Homo sapiens: one gene and its partners. The protein of the gene in region 1 binds, or shares a complex with, the protein of each later gene. Each region holds a gene or a part of one and is shown in the gene's direction. Other genes may lie near its edges.

The links.
Region 2: the proteins of EZH2 (region 1) and JARID2 are in contact, whole or in part, in a cryo-EM structure (PDB 8VNZ), measured with the Homo sapiens proteins. Residues at the interface, in NP_001190176.1 of Homo sapiens: Arg78, Ile131, Pro132, Tyr133, Asp136, Ile146, Lys156, Val157, Asp160, Arg161; in NP_004964.2 of Homo sapiens: Arg108, Pro109, Arg110, Leu111, Ala113, Gln114, Arg115, Lys116, Thr154.
Region 3: the proteins of EZH2 (region 1) and EED are in contact, whole or in part, in a cryo-EM structure (PDB 8VMI), measured with the Homo sapiens proteins. Residues at the interface, in NP_001190176.1 of Homo sapiens: Arg34, Glu37, Val38, Lys39, Met41, Phe42, Ser43, Asn45, Arg46, Ile49, Arg52, Thr53, Ile55, Leu56, Asn57, Glu59, Trp60, Lys61, Arg63, Arg64, Ile65, Gln66, Pro67, Val68, His69, Ile70, Leu71, Glu82, Cys83, Ser84; in NP_003788.2 of Homo sapiens: Val85, Asn86, Ser87, Leu88, Lys89, Glu90, Asp91, Trp103, His104, Ser105, Lys106, Glu107, Asp109, Pro110, Val112, Arg120, Thr122, Leu123, Tyr124, Glu125, Gln129, Gly130, Glu131, Ile132, Arg133, Leu134, Leu135, Gln136, Ser137, Tyr138.

What each region holds. Positions count from the first base shown.
Region 1 is NC_000007.14:148,825,290-148,832,308, reverse strand, and holds part of EZH2 (histone-lysine N-methyltransferase EZH2), read left to right. Parts: intron 1-2,460; coding exon 2,461-2,581; intron 2,582-3,428; coding exon 3,429-3,569; intron 3,570-5,042; coding exon 5,043-5,145; intron 5,146-5,676; coding exon 5,677-5,855; intron 5,856-7,019. UniProt on the Homo sapiens protein: Polycomb group (PcG) protein. Catalytic subunit of the PRC2/EED-EZH2 complex, which methylates 'Lys-9' (H3K9me) and 'Lys-27' (H3K27me) of histone H3, leading to transcriptional repression of the affected target gene.
Region 2 is NC_000006.12:15,241,269-15,249,068, forward strand, and holds the start of JARID2 (protein Jumonji), read left to right. Parts: upstream 1-4,800; 5' UTR 4,801-5,271; coding exon 5,272-5,316; intron 5,317-6,546; exon of another isoform or gene 6,547-6,876; intron 6,877-7,241; exon of another isoform or gene 7,242-7,428; intron 7,429-7,586; exon of another isoform or gene 7,587-7,696; intron 7,697-7,800.
Region 3 is NC_000011.10:86,240,085-86,247,752, forward strand, and holds the start of EED (polycomb protein EED), read left to right. Parts: upstream 1-4,668; 5' UTR 4,669-5,145; coding exon 5,146-5,259; intron 5,260-7,668. UniProt on the Homo sapiens protein: Polycomb group (PcG) protein. Component of the PRC2/EED-EZH2 complex, which methylates 'Lys-9' and 'Lys-27' of histone H3, leading to transcriptional repression of the affected target gene.

The sequences.
Region 1 (7,019 bases):
CTGGGAATTGGAGATCCACCTGGGCAATATGGCAAAACGCTGTGTCCTCAAAACAAAAGTTAGCTGGGTGTGGCGCATGTCTGTAGTCCCAAGCTACTCAGGAGGCTGAGGTGGAAGGATGGCTTGAGGGAGGCGGAGGTTGTAGTGAGCTGAGATTGTGCCATTGTACTCTAGCTTGGGTGACAGCCAGACCCTGTCTGAAAAAAACAAAAGGAATGAAGCTTATAGTTCTTATCCTTAAAAAAGTCAGTGTCCTGTAATCTAAGTCTGACTTTGAGTTTTTGTTAATTGAGAACTTATTATTTAAAACAACTTTAGGTAGCATTTTATTGTGATAATGTACATTATGGTGTAAAATTCATAGGGCTTGTGAAACATGAGCTGAAACATAGTTCCATTGCTAACTCTGACGCAGCAGCTTTTGTAATAAAATGCTAAAGAGAAACTGAAGCATGTGTTCTTGACTTGTATTGCTAAATAAAAAATATATAGTTGTATTACTTAATTGATATATAAAGTGGGAAGGCTAATAAAATGTTGATAGAAGTCCTTGGTGAACCTGCTTTGGGGAAGTTTTTAGTAACTTTTATACTTTGTACAGTAGAGTCTCAACTTCAGTTACTCTTCTGTAGTTGTATAAATTTGAGTGTAGTTTGAGAATTACATTGCATGACCTTGAGGGAAGTTTCATGTTTTCACAGACTGAAATTCTGGAAGAATATATTATTTAAATTTGTCATTAATTTATGAATCACCCATGGATTTTGCTGGTCTAGCCTGGGTGACAGAGCCAGACCCTGTCTGATTTTGCTGACCAAAGCAGATTAGGCACACAATCTTTATTGTAACTAAGATACGTTTTGGAGAGCAGGATGATGTGGATATGATTGAAAAGACAAAATATCTAAGTGTCACTTGATTTTGGCTTAGATAGAAAGAAATCAACCCCTAGTTTAAATGAGATTAGTGCAAGTGAAATGAGATGAAAACAGGCCTCTAGTGTGTACATAAGCTTGAATTTGAATATATGAATACATTAAAACCTGCATTTTAATTATATGCTCCTTTTATCCCACTTTTTCTTTTCCTTGTCTGTCTACGGTACTTGTTATCTTTATGAACTCTCCAGTTGTCCTAAATTTGTTACCTAGGGATTATTTGAGATTTTTTCCACATTCCCTGGCTGCTACTAGTCCTGTGTGTGGCCTTTCCCAGCGTGTTCTTACCTGTGGGCCATGATCATAGTGCTGGGCCGAGCCTACGCCATCTCACCCTTTAAAGAGCTTCTGTGTCCTCCCAGTCAGGCATAGCCAGTCCATTCTGCTTATTATAATTATCTTTCTAAAATTCTGTTTTCAACCAATACTCTTTTCAAAGGCCTCTTAAGACTTAGACTTGTCTTCACTTGGAATTAGTCTCTTTAAACATGTACTTCAGAACTGTCCAGTCTTTATCTATAACTGCTGTCATTTTTATTCTTCATTGAAAATGCTCTTCCTCCTATGAATGTCAACTTTCTTTACCTTGTATGCTTAACTATTCTATTCTGTCTTAACTTTTGTTTGATTGGCTATTCTTCTTTCTTCTCTGTTGTCTTCCAAAGCTTGATAAAAACTCATCTATCATCTTTACTAGCACTGTCAACTTTGATATTCATCTCATTCATCTAAATATTGAAATATTTTATGTTTTTGTAGAATGTTCTTATTTTACATATAAGTACATATCCTTTTGGCATAAACTTTAATGGACTATCAATACTCTGTATCCCTAGAATTTTATTATATTGGATGTCTTACATTTTTTTTTCATTTTACCTTAAACTATTACAAGTTAATGGCTGTTTTAATAACTGGATCATCAAGTGGAGTTTGGGAGTCTTAGGGTAGTTTTTTGGTATGGGTCTTTATAGTTGATCTTGATACACCATATTTCATCATCCTCTATTAACATCTAAAGTGCGCGTTAAAACTGATGATGGCTGGGCATGGTGGCTCATGGTGTCAGACACCTGTTATCCCAGCACTTTGGGAGCCAAGGCGGGTGGATCACTTGAGCTCAGGAGTTCGAGACCAGCCTGGGCAGCATAGTGAGACACTCGTCTCAATTAAAAAACAAAAACAGAAAAACAGACGATGTCTTCTCATAATCTAGAGCATCTTTTTCTTTCTTAGAGGTATGTACAATAATGGTGGTAAGTTTTAATGATTGATGACAGACTAAGTGCATTATTTTTTCTAGAATTAAATTTTTTTTCTGTCAACAGTTTTCTCAGATATGCTTATTGGTGAGAGGGGTCTTTTATTTTTTGATAAATTTTAGAGTTTGCTCTCTGACTAGTATTTTAAATCTGGAGAACTGGGTAAAGACATGTACACATGAAAAAAAGGTTGTATTTTAGTTATTTCACATTTGATACTTAGAGTAAACCTGCTTTTTAAATATATTTTTTTCTTTTAGGTGGAAGATGAAACTGTTTTACATAACATTCCTTATATGGGAGATGAAGTTTTAGATCAGGATGGTACTTTCATTGAAGAACTAATAAAAAATTATGATGGGAAAGTACACGGGGATAGAGGTGAGCCATATGCTTCTTCTCTTGGAAAAAGGGGCTAAAGAATTGAGAGACACTTTTGTTTATGAAGCATATAGGGCATGAGAAAAATTTTAATATTAAAATTAAGTTTTGCACTGAACTATAAGGGACTGAACCTGGGCCCAGGCCTAAGATTTTCAGTATTTTCCCTAACTATTTTTGGGAAAATTAGTTAGGAGGATCATGTTTGCCACCTGATAATTATGCATAGTTGGTTATAACATAATGGCAATAACATGTAAATTAAATAGAACTTGAGTGTATGTAGATTTTAAGATTCTTTAGTAGTAAAATTAATTAGGATTGGGGCTCTGCTTCTGTGGCATATAGGGGCTCCAACAGCCCCTACTACTAAAAAATACCGCTCCTCTAGGGACTACAGTACCTGAAATTCAATCCTTAGAGTCATGGTTTCAGTTTTTTGTGTCCAGGAGGCCCTGTTAAAGTGTCTGAAAGGATAATATTTGTAATATCATCATCCATTGTCATTATCAGCAGAAAGCAGGGTCTGAAATGATCAGTTAAAGGACAGATCCATTGTTTGGGAGGAGGCCAAAGCCACAATCAGTTCCTAGAAGATTCAGTTTTCTACTAGAAAGTTTTGGGGAGGGGCCATTCTACAGAAAGTAGCAGGTATTAAAGATAAGTTTGCTTCCTTTGCCTAACACCAGTCCTGAAAATGATCTTATCTTTTCCTCCCCTCATTTCAATAATAATGTTTTAGTGCCAGTTACTAGGCTATGCCTGTTTTGTCCAAGTAGAAAAAGGATACATAAACTTTTGACATTATTGCTTCTCCTGTGTGTTTCTGACATTTGATGCGTTTCAGAATGTGGGTTTATAAATGATGAAATTTTTGTGGAGTTGGTGAATGCCCTTGGTCAATATAATGATGATGACGATGATGATGATGGAGACGATCCTGAAGAAAGAGAAGAAAAGCAGAAAGATCTGGAGGATCACCGAGATGGTATGCCTGATTATTAGGATTCTGTGTAGCCATTACAGCTTTCTTTCAAAAACAGTAGAAAGAGTAGAAATAGGGCTTAGTTTCTTCTTTCTCTTTTTCTTTCTTTGTTAAATATCACATTGATAGCAGTATAATCAAAATTAACATATTATGGCCAGGTAGGGTGGCTAACTCTGTAATCCTAGCACTTGGGAGGCTAAGGTGGGCAGATTGCTTGAGCCCAGGAGTTCAAGACCAACCTGGGCAACATAGTGAGACCCCATCTCTACTAAAAAGTAAAAAAATGAGACAGGGTGATTGCTTGAGCCCAGGAGGTGTAGGCTGCATTGAGCTGTGATTGTGCCACTGCACAGTCTGGCTGGGTGACAGAGTGAGACCTTGCCTTAAAAAAGAAAAAAAAAAGCATAATACTTGCAACATTATCTTCACTTGAGTATCTTTGTTTCCTTTGGCTAGCAAAGAACGTAATTTTTTGTGTGCTTCACTGGGCATCATTATAATATATAACATTGATATTCACCGTGTACAAGTTGTGTACTAATCACTTCTTATGCACCAGCTCACTTAATCCTCATAATGGCTTCATGAGATGGATGTTATTATCAGATCCATTTTCTTTTTCGAGACGGAGTCTCGCTCTGTCGCCCAGGCTAGAGTACAGTGGCCCCATCTCAGCTTACTGCAAGCTTCGCCTCCTGGGTTCACGCCATTCTCCTGCCTCAGCCTCCCGAGTAGCTGGGACTATAGGCACCTGCCACCACACCCAGCTAATTTTTTGTATTTTTTAGTAGAGACGGGGTTTCACCGTGTTAGCCAGGATGGTCTCTATCTCCTGACCTCGTGATCCACCTGCCTCGGCCTCCCAAAGTGCTAGGATTACAGGCGTGAGCCACTGCGCCCCACCTGTCAGATCCATTTTCTATTTGAGGGGATAGATTTAGAGAGGTTAAGTAACTTATAAGATTACACTATTGGGAAGAAACAGAGTCAATAGTTGGTGTTCTCTACTTGGCAAAGCTCATGCTAAGGCAGCATAGAATAGAATAATTTGGCGGGTGAAATAGCAATTTCTAAGAAGCGTATTTCAAAAAAGAGAAAATAACAAAAAGGTACCTTATTGACCTTATTGATCATCTAGTTCAGCTCCTTCATTTTACAGATGAGTAAACAGACCCAAGAGGTAAAGTGATCACTCTAAGTCACAAAATCAGTTAGTAGCAGAGCTGGGAGTAGAACCTAGGTTTTCTGCTTCCCAGTGCTCTTAAAGCTTTTCATATTTGAATTTGAATTTTGTTTTTGACTGACTGGCATTCCACAGACATGTAAAGTATGTGAGAAGTAAGTAAAACACAAAATAGAGATGATTTCTTAGAAAATCAGCTTTGTTATAGAGACATAATTGGGTAGAGAAAATGAAAGATCAAAAACTTGTTTACTTCCATTCTTTTTTTCCTTTCATATTCTCCTGTTTAGATAAAGAAAGCCGCCCACCTCGGAAATTTCCTTCTGATAAAATTTTTGAAGCCATTTCCTCAATGTTTCCAGATAAGGGCACAGCAGAAGAACTAAAGGAAAAGTAAGAATTTGTTCCTTTGAGGCAATCTTGCCCTGTATGGTATGTAACTCACCATTTTGGTTTATTACAAATGGAATCAATGTAGCGGATGAGCCACTACACTTTGTTTACAGTGTTTGCAAGATACTTGAAGCAACATGTGTACTTGTGGTACTCTGCATTACAAAATATTTCCTGTAGATAGAATAAATACATATGTATAATTTATATATACACATAAACACACACATATACATAAAATTTACAGTAGTACATTTACAGGAAAATTATCTGGATACTGGTAGAAATTTGATGTTTAGTTAAAACTAATATAATATCCTTTTCCATGATATATTTGAATCATATCGATGAATTTGATTCTTGATAACACCATGCACAATATTTAGTTGGCTCTTTATCTAAATAGAGCCATTCCTTTATGTTTTAGGCAAGATAAACATCAAAAGTAACACATGGAAACCTTTTAGAAACTGTTTTCAAAAAAGTGATTTTTGTTTCATGTTTACTTAAATTTTTCTTGGTTAATGTCAGATATAAAGAACTCACCGAACAGCAGCTCCCAGGCGCACTTCCTCCTGAATGTACCCCCAACATAGATGGACCAAATGCTAAATCTGTTCAGAGAGAGCAAAGCTTACACTCCTTTCATACGCTTTTCTGTAGGCGATGTTTTAAATATGACTGCTTCCTACATCGTAAGTGCAATTATTGTACGTTTTCATTTTCTATCTTTGTTGTGGAATTATGTTTTAAAGCAGCTTGGAGAGTGCTATCATTTATTACAACTAGAATTTATCATTTAATCTTGTAGTTACTTTGACAAATATCTTTAGATCTCAGTATTATTATTTTTACTTTGTTGCTTGAGGATTGCTCTGAAATCTTTTGCATGTATTTCATTTGGACTACTATTTTCCACTAACATGGAATTCAGGTCAGTGATTTTTTTTTTTTTCCCCCGTAAGTGCTAACTAAGCAGTTGTTTTACAATAAAACTATTATTATGAACTGGTAGCCCAGAGCAACATTGCTGATATTGATGAATAAATTGTGTTAAATAAGAAATTGGCCAAAAAAATGTTCAGGTAAGTGCTTGTCGATTTAATGTAATTTTATTTTATTTTATTTTATTTTTTTGCCCTCTGGGTAAGTTGTTTTTTAAAAATACCTGCATTTGAATACAAGTAAAACGTAAAATGTTCTTAGTGAAAATGTAAGTATGGTATATACAAAAATACTTTTTTCCTCTGGCATTTCTAGGGAATGTGGTTTCTTAGTAAATTTTCCTGGTAATTGAAACTTCTAAGCACAGTTTAAAAGCGTCAACTACTTTTGAGGCACATATTTTGAAAATGTATTTAATACTTCCTAATTTTCCTAGAGTAGTTTGCTTATTATAGTTTGGTTTTTCCTATATTGTATTTTAGTACGTCTGTCTATGGCATGGTAATTTCTTTAGGGGCTTTGACCCATTGTAAAATCGTTTTCCCCTGTACTCAACGGCCCCACATTGCTTTGTTGTTTTGAGTTCCTGTGCCTACCATTGACAGATTTATTCCTCCTCGTTCACCAATGATAACGTCTTTTTAAGCTTGCCCAAGCAGCTGTACCTCACCTCCTCCTAAGTGTTTGCTCTACTTGTTTTTGCTGCAGCTAATAATGTGTTGAGTGATGTAATACATTGGTCTGGAAATGTTAAGTTTTGTTTTTGTGTGTGACATATTAGTGGTTTAGTTATCTTAAAATAGAAAAACTTGAAGTAGATTTTTAGAATTATCATTATATTGTTACCTCCTTGCTCTTGTTCTAACTCCTCATCTAGTTTAAATTGATTTGGTAGTTTTAAAAATTCGTAGTAAGTCATCCATTTGTTG
Region 2 (7,800 bases), on another chromosome or scaffold:
TGCAAATTTATTTCATCGAAGAATTATTTTCTTTTCAGTCCCACCTAGTAACATTTCATGGAATCATATGTCTTGAATCCCATTTTGGAAAACCAGGGAGGTGGCCTGCACTGGGTATGTGGAGCCGAGAGTCCTGAGTTTGACCCTTGGCTCATCCACTCAACTGGTTGTATGACTTTGAGCAAATCACAACCTCTTAATATTTCATTTTCACATTTGAAGAGTGAGGACAGTAATACCTGTCTTGATCTAAGTTGTTTTATGGTTTAAATGAAATTATTATGACAGTGTGCTTTAAACACTATTAAAGTTATACAAATGAAAGCTATCATTAGATAGCTCGGATAAATATGAGGTCTTTTTGGAAATTAATAACATACAAGTGTAAAGAAACTTAACCTAGCAACTTTTACTGAATGATTGTGGATTTGAGTTTACTTAGGGGCCAGCACTGAGGGGGAAAAGCAGCATAATACAAAGGTAAAGGTAGGACTAGAGAATGTTGGGTGTAGAAATGTCTTTGGGAAATAACTGAATTTAACCCTCTAATTTTTAATTTTATGTTTGTAGAGATGGTGTCTGGCTATGTTACCCAGGCTGGTCTTGAGCTCTTGGGCTCAAGCAATCCTTCCGCTTTGGCTTTCCAAAGTGCTAGGATTAGAGGTGTGAACCACCACACCCAGCCTAACCTGCTCATTTTATAAATGACAGACCCAAGGCCTATATGAGGCAGGTGAATGGCATATGGTCACTCAGAGACTTAATATTAGAAACATCTGATTCCCTCATTGCCAATGGCTGCCTCAATATGAGACAAATCATGGCCCCATCCAATTTTCAATTAAGAGATACAAGATACTTACATGACATAATCAGAAAAAAATACAACAGAGAACAATTTTTTTTTGTTTGTTTTTGACAGGGTCTTTCTCTGTCACCCAGGTTGGAGTGTAATGGTGCAATGTCAGCTCACTGCAACCTCAGCCTCCCGCTCAAGCCATCCTCCCACCTAAGCCTCCCAAGTAACTGGGACTACAGGTGCACACTACCATGCCTGGGCCACCACGTCCAGCTAATTTTTTTTTTTTTTTTGGTAGAGATAGGGTTTCACCATGTTACCCAGGCTGGTCTCAAACTCCAGAGCTCAAGTGATCCTTTTGCCTCGGCCTTCCAAAGTGCTGGGATTACAGATGTGAGTCACCACATTCGGCCTCAGAATAAAATTTTAAAGCTCAAAAATTATTGCCAAAATAGGAAGGGCAATGAGAATCCAGGAATGAGTAGGCCAAGCAGCGAGGCTGGATTGGAAATGGGCCTGAATTTGGGGCCTTGAAGAACGTATAACACTACATTGGATTTAGATAATGCAAGAGGAAAACTAGCAGAGTTCCAGAATGGAATGGAAGATGATGGTAGGAGACTAAATGTTGGGCAATAGTCTAAATAGTTGGGCATTATAGTTTTGGTGAAATATTCAACAGTAAGCATTTACTGGACATCTTTCAAATTTGATGAAGTTTTTGGAGCTTTGGAGGGTATGAGAAGTAGACAACATCATCTCTTTAGGGAATTTCCTTTTTACTTGGAGAGAAGAACTAGAAACATTAAAAGTGGAGAATGTAAACAAATAGGATGCAATGCAAAGGGGTGAAATATGCACTTCTTTAAGTATGTATGTGAACCCCTACACCTACTTCAAAACTCCTTAACACCTAGTCATCTCAGCAATGTGTTCTTTTTAGCTTCTTTTCTACATTGCTGATATAGTACTTTTTGGAGGTATCACAATCCATTGTAAACTCTGCCTTTTTTTTTTTTTTTTTTTTACTGAGCTGTGAGCTTCCTGTGTCCTCAGGGATGAGGACAGTGCTGGCATAGAGTCTAATACAATCAATGTACCTAGACATGTTCTCATCCCTGCCCCTCCAATTGAAGAGGTCAAGGCTTTGAGATGTGAAAATCATCATAAGAAAAGCTGCATTTGACTTACAGAAAATGAAAAAGAGGAGGAAGGAGCAAGAAAAGCCTTGGATGGTCTTGCCAAGATGGTAGGGGAAGGAAGTTCATTAGGAGTAGGTTACTTTCACAACAGGAAAATCTTTCAACCACTAAGAAGGCCAACCTTTTTTCTCTTTCAGGGAAAACAACACTAATATTATTCAAATCTTTTGGAAATGAGCAAATTCCTTCCTTTCCCCTCTGCCCTGAGGCCTCAACTTTACACAATAGTTTTTCACACCAGGTGACCTGGAGCTGGTAGCCTGGCAGGGGAGTTCGCAAGCCCAGGACTGAGAAGTCCAGGCCCCAGGGCTAGTTAGGGGAACAGAAAAGAAACTCACCTTTGTTCATTAATATTTGCCTAGGGAATGAGGTATCTGCGTTAAACTTACAGAAAGCTGGTTAAAATCTTAACAACGTGGAGACGTGGAGATTCCCAGTATGCCAGTCCTAATGATCAGAAAGTTTTTAGAAAACACCTTGGGTGGCCCTACTGTAGTCTGCCCCATTGGATCCTTCCCAGGAAATGGCACCAGCGTACAAGTTTTGCAGTATTCAGGGCACAAAAGATCATTTATTTTTCCAATTGTGAAGTGAACATTAGATAAAATTATTTCATTTCAGATTTTTTGAAAAGGTAAAAATAATAAGGAAAATACCCTCTCGAAAAGGCTTTTTATTTCGTTTACTGAAAGCTTCCAATAACGTGCCTAGTTTTAAACTAGGTTACTGTTATTTATCACATAATCATCCCCACAGGTTTGATCACCACTAATTTGCAGATGCGGAAACTGACAAGCTCAGAGAGGCTCTCGGTTGCCTTTTGGGAAGTGGCCAAGGCGCGATTTGAATCCAGGTCTCTTACCTCCAGTTTCTGAGACCTTTCTAGACACCAAGGTTATCTCTTCAAATACTGCTGCAAGTAAACAGCTGTGTGAGTATCTAGACTTTTGAAGTTAGCAGACTCTAGGGAATAGGTAGAATAAAATATATGGGTATGTGTTCGCGGGAGCGCTTCTGCCACGTTTTATTCCGAGGCTAGCCTGAGAGATCATGGAAAACATTGCTTCTCCAAAACCACAGCGAAAAACAAGGAAATTAACAAGGCAGAATCGCGATGCGAGACTTGACAAAGTTGTTAATAAGGCGAAGGCCCAAAGCGCTATGCCAGGGCCTGCTACTTCATTTGTTTCAGCGATTAAACCAGCACGACAGGGGGCTGGAGGCAGGTAAAAAGCAGGCTCTTGCGTGGCCCGGACAGTTGATATTCCTGGCACTCGGTGTTCGAGATGTTTCCTTACAATTGCGTGTCTGTGCGGCTCGGTCTCCATATTCCACTCATTTTTGTCTCAACATTTTGTGGTATTTTATCACAAAATACGCCCGGCAAAGCAAAGATCCCGTTCAGTCTCTTTAAACACGGCTATCTTTTCTCAGGAGGCAGCCGCCGGGGCTTCACTCCTGGGCCACCAGCGACGTCCTCCAAGCGGGTCGAGCGGAGGCGCGTTCGCGACCCAGGGGCAGCGTGCCGAGCCCGGGCGTGGGGGGGCGTGGCCTTTCCACTCGGCGACCCCCGGCCACCGCCCACCCCGCGCGTGGGGGCGTGCGCGACTGCGGGGCGCGGAGAGGGGTGACCTCGGACTACCCTAGGCGCCCGCAGCACGCTCTGTACACAGACGCGAGGCGCTGTCCTGAGGTGACACCGGCTGCACGGCACAAGCAGCAGGCGCCGCCGATCAACTAGTTCGCACCGAGGATTCCTCTTGGTGCGTGGCCCAGTTTTCCTTAGGACGGGCTCCAACCCCTCCCTGACACCGCCCCCCTCACCGCCACGCTCCGAGGCCTTCCCCGGGGAAGCCTCGCGTCCCTCCCCCGCGGCTCCGGGCCGCACGCGCGCGATTCCTCGATTCCACAGGCGGTTCGCGCCGCGGGTGGGGGCGGGGCGCGCGGGGAGGGGGCTGGCGGCCGCCAGGGGAGGGGGGCCGGGGCCCGGGGGGCGGAGGAGGGCCGGCGTGGGGAGTTCCTCGCTCGCGGACCACACGCTCCGCGGGCCAATCCCGAGCCAGCCTCTAGCAGTGTCGCACGCGGGACACGTCCAAGCGTTTGTTGGCACGGCCAGTGAGGGGGAGGGGGCGAGGAGGAGGGAGGGGAGTTGAGTGACAGGCTTTGCGGGGCAGGCTGGGAATTGTAGTTCCCAGCTTCCGTGGCCATAGCCATTTTGTAGTCGGGGGACTACAACTTCCAGAAGATCAAGGGGACCATTCTAAGGTGCCCCGGGAATAGGCGGCTCTCCCCGGGGCCGGGCGTCCTGGGGCACTCCTACCCAGCAGCCCGGCTGCAGGTAGACGCGAAGGCAGTGGCGGGGGCTGGCGTGGGGCGGCCGTGGGGTGAGCGGCAGGCAGGGGAAAGGGGGTGAGGTGGAGCGACGGAGCGTGCCATGCATTGAGCTAGGGAGCCTCTCTCAATTCCACGCCTGGGCTCGGCGTGGGAGCGACGCCCGAGGGCTTGCCTGGGAGGGGTTCGTCGAGGTCGCTCGGGTGTCTGGTTGGCCAGGCTGCGGGGGTGCCCTGGACTGGGCCAGGGGCGGTCGGCACCAGGCTAAGCGGGCGCCTGGCGGCTGAGCGGTGGGAGTTTTCGGCTGGCGCCCGGCGGGGAATTATCCGAGGAGCCCTAACTTGTATAAAAGCAGAGTCCATTTAAAGTTGGGCTGGATAGCCTCTCTCTCATTGGTTAGGGGGCTTGGAAAAAAGAGACTCGGCGAGCCCTCGCTGTGGTGCTGCCGCCGCCGCCGCCGCCGCCGCTGGAGTTGACTCTTCTGCTCGCACTGCTGCTGCAGCACAAACGTGACTTCCAACATTTTTTATTTATCTTTCCCTTTTCTTTTCCAAGATGTAACTACGGATCAGACACTAAGGACCTTCACGTTTCGCTGATGTAGTTTTTGGAGGAAAAAGGGGGGGGAGTGAAGGGCGTCGGTTTTTTTTTGTGTGTGTGTGTATGTGTTTCGGGGGAAATTTTCCATTATGAGTGTTTTACTAAAGTGAATTTTTTTTTGTTTGCTTCGTTCGTCTTTGGCTCTTTTTTTTTCCTTCCCAATTTCGGATTTATTTCAAGGCGAATCTGGCTTTGGGGGAAGAGGAAGAAAAGTCGGATTACAAGATCAACCACCACCAACAACAATAAAAACCACCAGGATATTTTTTTGCAAATTTCTGACGGCTTTAAATTCATGAAGCAATTGTCCCCTTTTGCAATCAGCATTTGGATCTCAGAATGAGCAAGGAAAGACCCAAGAGGAATATCATTCAGAAGAAATACGTAAGTGCTCCTAACAACACATCCTTTGACTTGCAGTTTTAAGCAATGGCTGTGAATGTCAAGTTTATAGATAATTCTGCCTCTGAAGGGTTTTAAACACAGCGTCCGATAAGGCTGTTTCTTTTTTTTCTGAAAGAGGGCTTTTCAAGCAAAGTGGTGTCTGCCTAGTTTGGTTGAAAAAACAGACTGGTGTAGAGATACCTCAAGTGAATAAATTGACCTCGAATGACACAACCATAATCTACTTTTAGATGAAAGGCAAGGGATTTTGGTGGAGCTTGAGGTGGGGGGTGGCTGCGGTAATGTAACTAAACTGCATTCTCAAGCGGATTTGGCCCCGTATTGCACTTTGCATGCAAATGAGCCTGTGTTATTATTATTAATGTTATTTGGAAAAATCGTGTAACGCATGTGTGTTGGAAGCCCTTTAAGTTGCGATCGAGGGTCCGATTATGGCGATCTTCTCTTTGCACTGGCACATCAAATTTAATGTCTGTGGTCGTTTTGGCTTATCTGGTTTGCAACATAAACCAGTTGGGAATCATGTTACAGCGAATGCATTTGTTGGGATTGACTTTAATAATGAGGCTGGTTTTGTTTAAAAAATTCATGGTTTCCAGTTGTAGGGGAAAAGGACACACACTATGGCTAATGTTTTTAAGTGTGTACGTGAATGCATATGTAAGTAACTACAAATAATTTCTCCCTGTTAACTGGGCTTCTGAAATTGGGTGATTATTCCTAGATTTAAATGGCTTGGAATAGTTAAATTTGTTTTGTGCATAGTACAGCTACGTTTTGATTGGCATGGGGAGTGTTTTTGTTTTGTGTGTGGTGGCTTTTTTTTTTTTTTAAGTTTGAGGGGAGGGAGGAAAGGGGGACCGAGGGATTAACCAAATATGCACTCGAGTGATCTGTGATTAGCTGCATGCTTTAAATTAAATAACTCTTTTTTTTTTTCAAAAAAGGCCAAATGAACATACCTTAGGAATAATGCAACGTAAGAGGAAAGTTTATTTAAGTTGGGTAGACAAATTGGTGTTAATATTTTCCCTTTTTGATCATTGTGGTGTGTGTAATGAGAGATGACCTTCGGGGCACTGGTTTTGTAAAAAAATATATTTAATGGAAAAGCTGAATGCCTCTTCAAGAGAGCTGATCCTTATCTAGACACGTCAACTTCAACTATGAAAGAAATGCAAGGTTAAATAATCAAGCCCAACTTAGAAAGCTGTTCCATAAAGAATTTAAGAATTAAAATACATCCGCATTGCAGAGGGCTGGGTAGAATGCAAAGGACTAGTTTAAACTCGGGCTGTAGAAACTGCACTGAGGCAACCTTGTCTTGGAGCGTGGACGCCTTCCCGGGGCACGTCCGTTTCGGATGCAGCCACAAAGCAAATGGGGTAGAACTTGGACGAGAACCGCACCCCGCCTCCCATTCCGGACCTCGTTGAGGTGGAGAGCAGCGTGGGGTGGGTTTTCTTTCTTATTGCGGGCGTTCAGCGGATCGTGTCTCCGAGTCCGGGCGTCCGGCTGCAAGCCCGTGGCTGGCGGCGGCTGCGGGAGGCACGGCACGAGTTAATGCACCGGGAGCAGAGCCGGTGTTCCCGACGTCCTCGAGCCGGCTGCGAAAGGGACGGCCCGCGGGGGTCGCGGCAGGCTGGGCCGGGGCTGGGCGGGCGGGCGCGCGCGCGCGGCCTATAGGGGGCATACTCCGGGCTCTAGGCGGGCGCGCGAGGCGGGCACCGGTCTACCCGGGCCGGCTTGCAGGCGGGCAGGAGGGCGGGTGGGGCGCGGGGGTGGCGCGGCCTGCGGGGCGCGGGGAGGGGAGAGCGCGCGGGGAGGGGGTGGGAGCGGGGGCGGGGGCGTGGGCGTGCCGGGGAGGGGGCGCGCGGCGCACAGCTGCAGCGGGCGCCCCCCACCGCGCACACGGCCGAGCATGGCGGCGGCGGCCCGGCCGGCTTCCCGCGGCCCTGCCTGCGGGCTCCGACGCAGTCTCGAGAGCAACAGGTTAAGCCGGCGAGACGTCAGCGCGCCCCCTCTCCGCCCCCCGGTTCTTCCCCCGCCGCGCGCCGGCGCCCCAGCCCTTCTTCCCTCCCTCCGCCCCCCGCGGCGCTCGGTTCCCCGACGCTCCCGGCCGCACTCTGTTGTCATTGTGACGTCACAAAGGGACGGGCTCGGGTGGAACCTTCCCCTCCTCCTCCGTGACGTCAAAAGTCGGGCGGGAGGCTCCAGGCGCGGCGGGGCGGCGGGGGGAGGAGGGAGCTGGGCGGGGGCGGGGGCTGCCGCAGAGCCGGGCTGCGGCGTGGGAGGAGGAAGAGGAGGAAGATGCGCTCGGCCTCTGCCTTCCGCTCCGGAGCGTCGCGCTTCCCACCAGGTGAGGGCCGGGGAGCCGTAGGTCCCCAAAGGAGTGCCACTGGACCCTGTTCTGATGCCACTTGGGAAGCGGGGAGCGGGGAGGAGGCGCCTCCTTTCTGCAGG
Region 3 (7,668 bases), on another chromosome or scaffold:
TGAGATCTGTGCATTTCACTGTATATAAGTGAAATAAATACAAACAGAGTTAAAATAATGCCATTCTAATTCCTTCTGTATAAGTCTTATCAACAGGAGATACATGTTAATAGACTTGTCTTAAGAAGGTCTATAAGATCCTCCACGATCTGGCCCCTTACCTTCTTTTCTAGCCTTCTCTGTTACCACACTTTTGTCACCTTCTCTTTTCAGTCCTTCACCAGCACTGACCTTTCAGTGTACCAATGGCGTTTGTACTCTTCTCATATTCCTGCGCCAGGACTTTTGCACATGCTGTTATCACTCCCTAGAATGTTTCTCCTTCTCTTCTTAATGGGAGACTGGTTAACTCCCATTCTTCTTTTAGTTCTACTCTTCTGTCTGTTTCTCAGGGAAACCCTCCCATGTCTCACTTTATTACACACGTCCATGGAAACTTTGTCCAGCTGCTGTGTATGCCTGTGCAGCTTGTTCATCTAAACAAGGGTTCCCAGCTGAGGTGACAACTAAAACTAAAATCAAATTTGTGCTCCACTCACAAAGCCTTGCACACGGAGCAGGGTTGTATCAATCTGGAAAAGGGGGTGCCTTTTCTAATTTACCAAAGTCATTGTTTGCTTGCCAAGCTTTACCTACTCTGGGCTCTTTCTGCTATGGCCTTTTAAAAAATAGCACAAAGATACCATATGGGCTAGCAGCAGCCCTGACCTTGTACTTCCCCTTCATACCACTTACCACGGTAATTTCACATTTATTTGGTTAATGCTTGTTTCTCCTACTTGTCAATAAGCATGATGACAGCAGGAAATTGTCTGGTTTTGCTTATTGTCAAGTTTCCTCAGCACCTGGAACAGTGTTGGGCACACAGTAGGTACTCAGTAAATATATATTAAATCTATTCGTTATTTTTCTTTTTTTTTTTTTTAAGACAGAGTTTCACTCTTGTCACCCAGGCTGGAGTGCAATGGTGTGATCTCAGCTCACTGCAAACCTCAACCTCCCGGTTTCAAGCTATTCTCTCACCTCAGCCTCCCGAGTAGCAGGGATTACAGGCTCCAGCCACCACGTCAGGCTAATTTTTGTATTTTTAGTAGAGACGGGGTTTCGCCATGTTAGCCAGACTAGTCTCGAACTCTTGACCTCAGGTGATCCACCTGCCTCGGCCTCTCAAAGTGCTGGGATTACAGGCATGAACCACCACGCCCGGCCCCATTCGTTATTTCTTAACGCTGGATGAATATTAGGCTGTTTGAAGGTAGAGACTGTGTCTTATTTTCTTTTTTATTGTCCCCTCCTCCCCATTGCCCCTGGAATTATCCTACTGCTTTGCATGTAAATGGCATTCAGTAAATTCTTCCTGATTGATTTGAAAACGTTCAAATAAGCCATATGATGTTCTGTTCATAGAAAACCAGATCTGCAAGCATATGATTACACATTGCATGAATGATGATGAACAGCTGCTATTTATGAAGCAGAAGAGACAAAAATGTTGAATGAATGAGAAATAGACTCCAGTTGAAATGGGAAGGATTTAATTTAGCTTTTGAAACTCATTTCCTGATATGAAGCTTACAAGATACCAGGAGACAATGCCAAGGAACGCTGTGAATTTTCTTTTTCTATATAAGTAAATGATCTTGGAAAGTTCCAAGATGGATCAACCACTTACTTGAAGGCTAAGGGGTATTTCTTACTGAATTCTCAACAGCCAAGTATGAGATAGATATTTTAAAGTAAGTTTTTATTTTGGAATACTTTTACAGAAAATTTACTAAGAACAAAGATAGCATAGAGAGTTCCTGTATTCCCCTCATCCAGTTTCCCTCATTATTAACATCTTACATTACCATGTTACATTGGTCAAAATTAAGTAAAGACTGAAATCCGTACATTACTATAAACTATGCTATAGATTCTTTGTTTGTTTTCCCAGTTGTATCTTCTTTCTGTCCCAAGTGAGATAGCTTTTTAAAGTTCTTTGATACTTTATAAACAATTCTGTGGTCTAAAGACCAAGCTCTGTGCATAGAATTACATAAATTTAGAGCTGCCTGGGTCCCTCATCTTGAGGTAAAAGTGCTTTGGCTTTCCAATCAATTGAACACAATCTCTAGTACTGCCACTTGAACAGCTGTGTGTCTTTGGGCATACTGTTTACTTATCCTAAGTCTTAGTTTCCTCATTTGTAAAATGTGGGTAGTAAGACCTCTCCAACTGTGATGGTTCCTGAGATCTTTCACAGTAGGAGAATGCAGTGTTGAGAAACGTACAAATTTTTCTTTTTTAGAGAAGTAGGTCTCCTTATGCAGCGCAGCCTGGCTTTGATATCCCGGGCTCAAGCAATCTTCCTGCCTTAGTCTCTTGAGTAGCTGGAACTACAGGTACACATCAATGCACTCAGCAAAACTTATTTTTAATAGGTAATTAGACTTTTATGGTTATTAAATTAATACCACAAAAGTAGTACTCTGCATGGAACACCTATGACATTTTACATATCTTAAATTAGTAACAAAGACTCTCCTCTGAGCCCTCTTCTCCATCTTCCTGTCTAGCTTGCCTGGCTCAGCTGTAGCAAGAATTCTGCATCAGTTTAGAGAAAAACCCATACCCTGGATATCTGATCACCCCGGCCTTTTTTAGCACAAATTCTGTTAAGTTGGTGTAGCAAAAGTTTCCCCATTCTTGATGTCTCTTCTTAGTAATTTTCCAACCACCAACCCCTCCAACTTTGCTCCTTGACTATACATCCCCACTCCTTGCTGTAATTTGGAGTTGAGCCTGATCTCTCTCCTATTGTGATAGTCTTGACAGCTATCAAAATAGTCCTGAATTAAGTGTTCCTTACTATTTTAACAAGTGTCAGAATATTTTTCCTTTAATGTAGTGACAATAACGTAGTAATATAAACTAATTTCCATTTATCACCCCTGATTCATCAGAAACATTTTAAAAATAACCCCTTCAAGTTTTAATAAGCCTCTTTAAACTATTTTTGCTTTGTTACAGATAATATGAATGCTGTAAGGCATTTTTCTACCATATGTGTCCTTTATCCAAATGTTCAGCACTTTTCTAATTTTATGACTAGACGTTGACTCCCACTTCCCAGCTCCCACTAATCTCTCACACACGGAGTAATTTTAATTTGAAATGCTTTAGTCAATTATCCTTTACTTGTAGAACTATATTTCAGAAACGTCCTTCCCTTTGTTGGGAAAGATGTTCTTAACAAAGGGAAGGATGTTTCTGTCTGCTGATGAAAATGTCATGCCAAAGCACGTCTTACTTTGTCAGGAGCTTACTCTACTCCAGTCTCATCTCTTCTCACCAACTGAGGAGTGCTTAGTAGTGCCTGGAACATTGGAAGTACTGAACAAATGACTGCCGTCATTGAGACCTCAACTTTAATTTTTTTTCGGCTTCTTTATTTCAAAGTCTTCACTGCAGAAACCTCTCATTCTGACCTGCCTTTGCTTTACTTCCTTTTCTCATTCTCAACCAAGAGTTCTCTCTTTATCTACAAAAGAAAGAGTGACTTGCAATCTGCAGATAAGGAAACTGATGTCCTGGTTATAAAGTTATCATGCAGAAATAATTCAAGTATACTAGAATTTTATGGATGGTGCACTCTAGGTGGGTAATGAGGTCTAGAAGAGAAAAGATATACAACATCAAGCAGGTGCCCAAGAAATGGTAGGTCCCTTTCTCCCTTCCTGCCTCCTCATTTTTACAGATGAGGACATTTTTACAGAAGCCCGAATAGATAAGTAGTCACAATCATGTTCTAAGAAAAACAAAAAAAAGGTGGCGGATGCCGTATTTTATTTTTCGTCATCACTCTCCTTTTCCTGCTGCTCATTCAGTTATGGTTTCATGACCCATATAATAATTCCACAAGGCTCACCAATGTTATCTGGCACCTGCTAGAGAATAGATATAGTAACAGAGGCAAATATTTTGGTGAAGTTTAACAGTTGTGTTGCCTTCTAGAATTTCATTGTATCTGATGTGCAAAAACAAGCAAAACATTGTCGGTTAAGTATCACAATCTCATAATGGAGATGAGCACTGATTCTTAGGCCTTGGCGTAGTTCAGGGCCTATCCTTTAGCAGCTAAAAAGAGCACTTTGGCTGTAACTCATTGGAGTCTAGTCTCATAATGTTAGGATATTTCTATTTAAGTCTTAACCACTATTGGTAGCAACTGGAAGGATAATCATTCATTACAATAAATAGTCAACAGAATAAATATCCGACAAGAATTTACGAAGCGTCTAGAGTATAATTCGGTAGCGCTTTGAAATCCACCCTGGGATTCGGAAACCGGGTAGAAAACTACCTGGTTCAGCAAACGAGAATTCAAACAGAGGAGGGGCTTGGAGGAGGCGGGTTTCGACGAACCCAGCGCAAGAGTACGCCACGGCGCCTGCGCATCCCCTGACGGGTACTTTCCATTCGCCAGATGGGGGAAGCCAGGGGGAAGCAGGTTACTGTTTTTGCATTTCTATCTTCAAGGAAGAATTAGGTTATGAATAGTTCCGTGAATAGTCAGGAAGCGCTGTCCTCCAAGTTCAAGATTAAGGAAACGTGGCATGCACAGCTAAAGCAAGAGGTGACGTCTTGTATCTTCCCCCGTTTCCTGGGACATTGGTGGTGTAGCCCATTCCACAGACTTTCGCTCCCTAGCAGCGGGTCGGAGATCGAAGGAACGGGCCAATTGCGGCTGAAACGTCTTTGGAAGGAGGAAGGGGGTGAGGGAGCATCCCTTTGAGTTTCGCCTCTTCTCGAGGCGGTGGTGGGAAGGGAGACATACTTAATACTGCCCTCTTAATCCAACGGACCTTACATCGTGTAGACTGCCGGGAGGGCGGCGGGAAAAGGGCAAGACGGGAGTTGGGGAAGGGAAGGAGCCAGGAAGCCGCGCGGGAGGGCGCGCGCGCGCGCCCCTTTTTCAGCAGTGTGGCGGGGTCGCACGCACGCCCGCCTCGGCGGCTGGGCGCGATTTGCGACAGTGGGGGGGGCGGTGGAGGTGGCGGCGGCAGCGGCAACTTTGCGGCAAGCTCGGGCCGGGCTTGCTTGACGGCGGTGTGGCGGAGGCCCCGCCCCAGGCGGCAGGAACCTGGAGGGAGGCGGAGGAATATGTCCGAGAGGGAAGTGTCGACTGCGCCGGCGGGAACAGACATGCCTGCGGCCAAGAAGCAGAAGCTGAGCAGTGACGAGAACAGCAATCCAGACCTCTCTGGAGACGAGAATGTAAGTGCAGCTTCTGGCAGTTACGAGACTGCGGAGTGAAAGTTTTAAATTCTTTTAAAACGGGGGGCGCGGGGACGAGCGGGCTGCTGTGGGGGGAGGGAGAGGTGTCACTCAGGAAAACGCGGGCGTGCGGGAGAAAATTGAAATTGCCTACGGGGATTTTGATGTGGGGCCGAGAGCAAGCAGGAACTAGGCAAAGGAGAGTGGTTCTAGTGATTGCGTGGGTCTGAGAAGTCTGCCCTGAAATCAGTTTGCATGTGATGGGGAGTGTTTTGGCCTTTGGGGGGATTTAAGGGGAGAGTGCGGGTCTGAGATTCTAGTAGTTTAAAAGGCACGTTAGAGACTTTTCTAAGAAAGTTGGAAGGACGGGGCAGAGTTAGGGACCCTGTTAAAGGAGCGTAAGGGTTGTCACTCTAAGACCCTTGTGGAATTTTCAGGATGGAAAGTGATCTTCGATTTGCGGAGTTTGGGAGACTTTATTAAAGGGGGTTTTGTGTCCGCCTCCGTCCTGTCCGCGGAGACCGGGTGCGCCTGAAGGTCGCCTTTTCTGTAGGAGGAGCCGAATTGAGAGGATCGATTTTTGATTTGGGGGTGGGGAGTGACTACCTTTGAGGAAGTAAGAGTGGGTGATTTCTTCTTTGAACGTTTTTACTTAAGATAAAGGTGAGGGGGGTGGCGACCTGGAAGATTTTGGGCAACAGTGGTATAGGCAGATGTATTTAAGTGTGGGTTCCTGGCTTCGCCAAGTGCGCGATGTTTTGCAATCAGATTTTTTTAAGCTCTGAAATGGGTATTCGTAATCATTCGGTACCAACATTTAACCCAACTGAGTTTTAATTGACTCGCCAGTAAGAGCCGAATTGACATAAATAAGTTTTCAGTTTCATGTTTTAGGTTGATAACCAGTAAGGTCAACGAAGTATCTTGACAATTTATTCAAAGATACTACTCCAAAATGTGATTCTCCTTCTCATGATATATAACAACTTGTGAATATCTTTTAAAAAATCCTTAAAATGTTTCAGAAGAGTGGCGTAAGTTCTTCATTTTCTCAGTTTGGCTAGTTTTAGGAATAAATGTTACATCTTCTACACGCAGTTTCTAAATTCTGTCATAATTCCTAGCTGAAACATATAATGATGTCATGACTAAGATTTTCACGGAAAAGATGGGAAAGGATTCTTTTTGCAGAGACAAGATAGATATTCTTGGGATTGTCAGTTTGTGGGATCTTAGACTTCAAATTTCAGAAAAGCTTGGGTGTTAAGTGTTACTTTTGTATTTTTCACCCGATTGTGCGCCCCAATCTCACTGTACATTGGGATCTAACATTTTTTACCCTCTTCTTTTTATTATTTGAAGACCGTTCATTTTATTTCTGCGTTTTCTTAAATTTCTCTAGGCAGATTAGAGTATTAAGAGCACAGATGCTGGATCCAAGTGATAGGTTAAAATTTCTGTTCTATTAGCTTGACCTCGAGCAAGAGACTGACATAATTGTCTTAGTTTCTTAAAAATGAGGATGGTGGTGTATGGTATTTACCTCATAGAGTATTTGTAAGCATTAAATGAGTTAATATAGCTAAAGTACTAAGAAGAGTGTCTGCCCCATAGTAAGTACTATACACATGTTATTTATTTATAATAATTACTACTACTAATTTTATGATTACATAGAATAATGTTTCTGGCTCTTCCACATACTTAATAATCAGGCAAAATATAATGAAACTGTCAGACCTGTTTAGAATGAAGAAACTTGCAAAGGACAAAATAAAGCTTATTTTCTTCTTGCAGACCCTTACAGGAAAACATATTCTTTGCTGCAATTTTAAAGCTGTTCAAGACCAAATGATTGGATTAGTTTTGTTTTGGTTCCTCCATTTGGATAGCCTTAATTTTGTGTGTGTGCGTGCGCATGCCTTGGAAGCCTTAATCTTGTAGAGTCTTCTCAAAATAACATTTTTAGATGTATGAAATACAGGATATGAGGTTACAAACAAATTCAATTATAAAATTGTACACCATGTTATAAAATATTTCTAAAACAAATTTTAGATGTAGTCCTATACTATATGTACTTTATTAGCACATTAAGTAACAAGATCTAGCAGCGGGTCTGATAGTAGTGATGGGTATAAACACTTTTTCGAAGTGTAATATAAAAATACTTGATTTCCATTGGTGGCAGAGTCACAACTTCAGTAACATTAAGCATGTGTTACCTAGATAATAATAGAAGGAAGTGCTAAATTTTAAAGGTGGCAAAAATTAAGATGCAATTTTTTTTCCCCATTTGAGTTCACAAGCCTTCTGAATTTCATCCATGTACCCCTGACTTAGGGGCAGTAGTAAGGTAAGGGAGTAGAGAACATTGTATAAAAATGAGTTTAGAAAAGATAAGGGCAA